2 separate regions of the Homo sapiens genome follow, and region 2 is linked to region 1. Evidence: fine-mapped expression QTL. A gene starts in region 1. The other region holds a variant in brackets. All regions are shown on one strand. Distances are between the middles of the regions.

The links.
Region 2: its variant is fine-mapped to the expression of PMM2 in subcutaneous fat (GTEx, PIP 0.94).

The regions. Positions count from the first base shown.
Region 1 is chr16:8,796,139-8,799,047 of GRCh38, forward strand. PMM2 (phosphomannomutase 2) reads left to right here and starts at 1,701. Exons shown (of 8, transcript NM_000303.3): 1 at 1,701-1,810. The coding sequence starts at 1,745. TMEM186 (transmembrane protein 186) reads right to left here and starts at 1,501. Exons shown (of 2, transcript NM_015421.4): 1 at 1,474-1,501; 2 at 1-452. The coding sequence starts at 1,476. RefSeq lists enhancers at 1,095-1,789, 1,428-1,477, 1,790-2,484.
Region 2 is chr16:8,842,602-8,845,510 of GRCh38, forward strand. The region is part of intron 7 of PMM2 (phosphomannomutase 2); the gene reads left to right. Among named protein-coding and RNA genes, the nearest start is that of CARHSP1, 25 kb to the right of the region's middle. The variant G/A (reference allele first, on the strand shown) is at 1,344.

The DNA of each region.
Region 1 (2,909 bases):
TGCCGCCAGCCCCAGAAGTTCAGATGGGCCACCCGCAGCATGGTGCCAGACTCATTCAGATACAGGATACCAACCAGTCTCCGTAAGAAATAGCTCATCCAGCACAGCATGGTCAGGGCAAAGCCCGATATCCCACTCATGAGGCACACGGTGTTGAGAGTGAGGAGGCCCTGGGAGTACAAGTAATAGCCTGGTGGCAAAGCTACCACTGTCAGGGCAGTCTGTGCCAACTTCAGTCGTGACAGGAACCCGAAGGTTCTGATGGCATCAAAACGGTAAAACATCCAGAATTTCTCAGTCTCTGCGTTTGGTAGTTTCTCCTTCGAGATGGGTGAACTGCTGCCCACCCACCTCTTAGGATCCTCCTGCCCACTGCAGCACCACAGCCCATGGAGAGGCCTTTCCCACACAGCTTTTCCCCGAAACCTACGCACAGCTCGGAGAAGGGCAGCCTGAAAGGGAGACAGTAGACCATTTCTCTCATGGAACTCAACCACATTAATCACACGGTGAACATCTGCAAAGCACCATACTCTAAGGCTTCTGCCAATCCTGCAAGGTAACCGTTATTGCCAGACGAGGGAAGGGTAAAGCCAGATGCTATCTCATGTGGGCATCACAACAGCTATCTAAGATAGTTATCACTATTTCCACTTTACCACTAGGGAAACTAAGCCCAGAGAGGGTAAGATATTTACCAAAGATCACACAGTCAGTGAGTGCAGCAGAGTCCTCCTTCCACCAGGCAATTCCAAATAAATACAGGAAAGGAGGTGCGGCCGTCATTAATTCAAAACATATCCAGGGAGGACAAACTCTGGGCTGGACAATGTATCCACAAGGGGGTGTGAACATTTCCCCAAGCAGGAAACTAAATAATCAGTGTCTTAGTGGGGAACTCGAGCAACAAATCTGTGAGATATTTATTCCAATAAACTTTCTAATTCTCTGTTTGATTCATATGCTATCTTGGGTGCTGGAGGGAACTGCTGCTTTCTCTTAGCCTAGTCTGGGGAAGGGGAAACAGCGGAGAAGGAGAAGGAGCGAGGCAGGGAGGCCCCAACACGTAGCACAAGGGTATTACTAGGTGGGTAGTGAAGCAGTAAAAGCTCTTATTCCAATTCTGGCTCCAACAGTAATTTGTGAGCAAATTACTCCACACCCCTGAGATTCGGTTTCTTCGCCTTTCAAAATGGGGACTCAGAACACAGTGAACCAGAGGATGGTTTCAGAGTCCTCAACTTAGTACCTAATGCACTGTGAGAGCTCGGCGAGTTTTAGCTACTACTACTGTGCGCATGTGACCCAAGGAGGGCAAGAGAAAGCCCGGGAAAAGCGAACTGTAACACACGCCAGAGCTTCCTCCCACGGATCCTCGGAGTCCGAAACCCGAGCGTCGGGCCTGCCCGCCCCAGCCCTGACCCCGACCCCAAAGAGCATCACCCCCTCAAGGCTCGCCACCCGCCTCCTTACCATGGCCCCACCACCTGCTGCCGGAAGTAAATCCCACCGGCCCCCGGAACCCCTAAGAGCGCATGCTCGAATGTACAAGGCGGGCGTGATCTGCGTTGCACCCTGGGAGTTGCGGTCCAGGAATCGTGGCTGCCGCTACTCCCAGGCGTTATGGGAACGGAGTCCCCTCCTCTTCCCGACGTGCCCTGCGACTCAGCGGCCGAACCCGGAAGTTCCGGGCCGAGTTCCTCGTGCCAACGTGTCTTGTAAGGTGCGGCTAGAAACTGGGGACATGGCAGCGCCTGGCCCAGCGCTCTGCCTCTTCGACGTGGATGGGACCCTCACCGCCCCGCGGCAGGTAAGTGGCGGCCGGCGGGCTGCTGGCAGCCGACGCGGAGCCCGTGCTGTTCCCAGTTGGGGCTATCGACCACCCAGGGTAGGCGCCAAGGGGTGGCTAAGGACCGCCTACGTCCTCACGGCGCTGAACCCTATTCTGGGTGCACTGGAGGAATGAGAGGGAGGCCCTAACCAGCTCTTGAAGAGCTCTGGTGCTTGGAAAGATGAGACGGGGCTGAAGAACTCTTAAGAGCAGGAAACTTGTGCTAGGTTGGAAAATGTAATCTGGACTCACCGCTAGTGCTCGGGACTGATAGACCAGGATTTCAACCCAAGATCAGGCCCCCTTATCAGCTATGTGTCGGCCCCAATCCTGTAACCAATGGGCTGTGCCGTGAGTCATGATATTAAAAACAGGTTTCCAGGTCAAACCGACCTAGTGGAGTCTCATCTTCACCTCTTGACATCTGTGTGACCTTCAGCGAGTCATTAACCTCTCTGAGCCTCAACATCTACAGCTTTAAATGGGGATGTTACCTGTTCCATATGGTGTCTGTGAGGATCAAATGAGATTGTGTAAGTTCTTGAAAGTATGTTGGACACAACACACTAGGCCTCAGTAAATAGTAGCCACCTCCACCACACCCATCTCCAGCCCCTGCAATGGACTAGGGAGATGGAGGAGCCCTAGGTTATTACAGGCTGCCCGCTGAGAGCCTCTTTGGGCCCTTGGAAACTTGCTTTCCACTTTCAGATTTTGCTGCTACAGGCACAGATAAGTTTCAGTTACGATCAGCCTTGAGGTGAGGCTCTCCTGGCCCCTTTTCAGAAATTGGCCACTGAACACTGGCCATTTCAACTTGAGACTGGACCCCAATGGTCTCACTATCCTCAGCTTCTACCCTCACCCCTCATAGTTTTCGCTTGGTGGTAACAATGGTGTGCTCCAGAAGTCCAGGTCAAATGCGTGTGACCTTAGACGTATCATTTTGCCCTTCTCAGCCACAGGTTTGATTTACCTAGTGATGACGCTCAACTCCCAAGTTCTTCAAAGGCTTTTTCTGATTCTGAAATTCAGTGATCACACACTTGGGTTTGTTAAAAGCCCATAGTGGTCTAAA
Region 2 (2,909 bases), 46 kb after region 1:
GGAGGAAGGTATTGAGGATGAAAGAGTGTATGGGTTGGGCACCACAGGGTGGATAGGCAAAACAATTTGGTTGATAAGGCGCAGATCCTGAACTAATCTGTAAGACTTGTCCGGTTTCTGGACAGGTAAAATGGGGGGATTATAAGAAGAGTTTATAGGTTTTAGAAGCCTATGCTGTAGCAGGCCAGTGATAACAGGCTTTAATCCTTTTAAAGCGTGCTGTGGGATGGGATATTGGCGTTGAGCGGGGTAAGGGTGATTAGGTTTTAATGGGATGGTAATGGGCATGTGATCAGTTGTCAGGGAAGGAGTAGAAATGTCCCATATTTGTGGGTTAAGGTGGGGGGATATGAGAGGAAGACGCAAAGGAGGCTTTGGGTTGGGGAGAAGGGCGGCAATGAGATGCGGCTGTAGTCCAGGAATAGTCAGGGAAGCAGATAATTTGCTTAAAATATCTCGGCCTAATAAGGGAACTGGGCAGGTGGGGATAACTAAAAATGAGTGCTTCAAAGAGTAATGTCTAAGTTGGCACCAGAGTTGGGGAGTTTTAAGAGGTTTAGAAGCCTGGCCGTCCATACCCACAACAGTTATGGAGGCAAGGGAAACAGGCCCTTGAAAAGAAGGCAACATGGAGTGGGTAGTCCCCGTTTCGATTAAACAGTGGGTGGACTTACCCTCCACTGTGAGAGTTACCCAAAGCTTGGCGTCCGTGATGGTCTGGGGGCTTCCAAGGCGATTGGGCAGCGTCAATCTTCAGCCGCTAAGCCAAGGAGTCAGTCAGAGAGCCTTGGGCCAGAGTTCTAGGGGCTCTGGGAGTGGCTGCCAGGTGAGTTGAACAGTCCGATTTCCAGTGGGGTCCCGCACAGATGGGACACGGCTTAGGAGGAATCCTGGGCTGCAGGCATTCCTTGGCCCTGGTAGTCAGATTTCTGGCACGTGTAGCAAGCTCCTGGGGGAGGAGGTTCTGGAGGAACGCCTGGCCGCTGCGGTTCAGGCATTTGGAAGTTCTTGTGTGCTGGAGATGTGGCTGGGGTTTGTCTCACAGTGGAGGCAAGGAATTGCAACTTTTTTCTATTATTGTACACCTTGAAGGTGAGGTTAATTAAGTCCTGTTGTGGAGTTTGAGGGCCAGATTCTAATTTTTGGAGTTTTATTTAATGTCGGGAGCAGATTGGGTAATAAAATGTATATTGAGAATAAGACGGCCTTTTGACCTTTTAGGGTCTAGGGGCTGAGGAAGAATTGGAACCTAGCTCGGCCTGGCGAGGAGGGGAGAGGTCAGATGGGTCTGTAGAAAAGGAAGATTAGAAAGACTCAGCAACGCTTGGGGTTGGGACTGAGGG[G/A]ACAGGCGGGAGGGAAAGAAGGAAGATTTGGGACGAGTTGCACTGGGCACAGAGACTAGGAAGGGACTGATGTGTAAAAGAATGCCTGGACATCAGGCACCTCAGACTGTTTGCCCATTTTACGACAAGAATTATTTAGATCTTGCAGGATGGAAAAATTGAAAGTGCCGTTTTCTGGCTATTTGGAACTACTGTCGAGTTTGTATTGGGGTCAAGCGGCATTGCAGAAGAAAATAAGGCATTTATTTAGGTTTTAGGTCAGGTATGAGTTGAAGAGGTTTTAAGTTCTTGAGAACACAGGCTAAGGGAGAAGAAGGAGGAATGTAGGAAGGTTGCCCATAGTGAAGGAGGCAAGCCCAGAGAAAAGAGAGCGTAGAGACATGGAGGGAAGGGGTTTGGGGGTTCTTACCCTCCAGAAAAGCGGGAAAGGGGTTGGGGCATGGAAATAAGGGATTGGGGCACAGAGATACGAGTTTGGGGTACTTGCCTCTCCCCCAGAAAAGCGGGACTTGCCGCTAAGGGTGAAGGAGAAGGGGTTGGGGGGTTCTTGCCCCTGCCCCAGAAAATCAGAGAAGGGGTAGAGACACGGAAAGAAGGGGTTGGGGTCCTTGCCCCTTCCTCAGAAAAGCGGGACTTGCCGCTAAGGGTTATGGACCAAGGCAGGTGTCCCTGCGTGGTCTGACACCTCTGAAACGTGGGTGAATGATCAGAGGCGTCCTTGCAATGATTAAACACCAAGGGAAGGCTGCCTTCCCAGTCCGTGACCGGCGCCGGTTTTTTGGGTCCACAGATAAAACGTCTCCTTTGTCTCTACCAGAAAATGAAAGGAATTGAAATTAAGAGAAGGGAGAGATTGAAGTGTGGCGCCTAGATTGAAAGGAGAAAGACGGTGAGGGATAGGGAGGTTGGAGAAGAGAGTAAAAAGAGGCTGCTTATTGGATTTGAAATTGGTGAGATGTTTCTTGGGCTGGTGGGTCTGAGGACCTGAGGTCGTAGGTGGATCTTTCTCATGGAGCAAAGAGCAGGAGGATAGGGGATTGATCTCCCAAGGGAGGTCTCCCGATCTGAGTCACGGCACCAAATTTCATGCGCGTCCATGTGAAGAGACCACCAAACAGGCTTTGTGTGAGCAACATGGCTGTTTATTTCACCTGGGTGCAGGCGGGCTGAGTCCGAAAAGAGAGTCGGCAAAGGGTGGTGGATTATCATTAGTTCTTATGGGTTTTGGGATAGGCGGTGAAGTTAAGAGCAATGTTTTGCGGGCAGGGGTGGATCTCACAAAGTACATCCTCAAGAGTGGGGAGAATTTCAAAGAACCTTCTTAAGGGTGGGGGAGATTACAAAGTACATTGATCAGTTCGGGTGGGGCAGAAACAAATCACAATGGTGGAATGTCATCAGTTAAGGCTATTTTTACTTCTTTTGTGGATCTTTAGTTACTTCAGGCCATCTGGATGTACACGTGTAAGTCATAGGGGATGCGATGGCTTGGCTTGGGCTCAGAGGCCTGACAGTAGGTGTTCTAGAAAGGTGTGTTGTGTTAATGTGTGAATACTGACTCCCCTC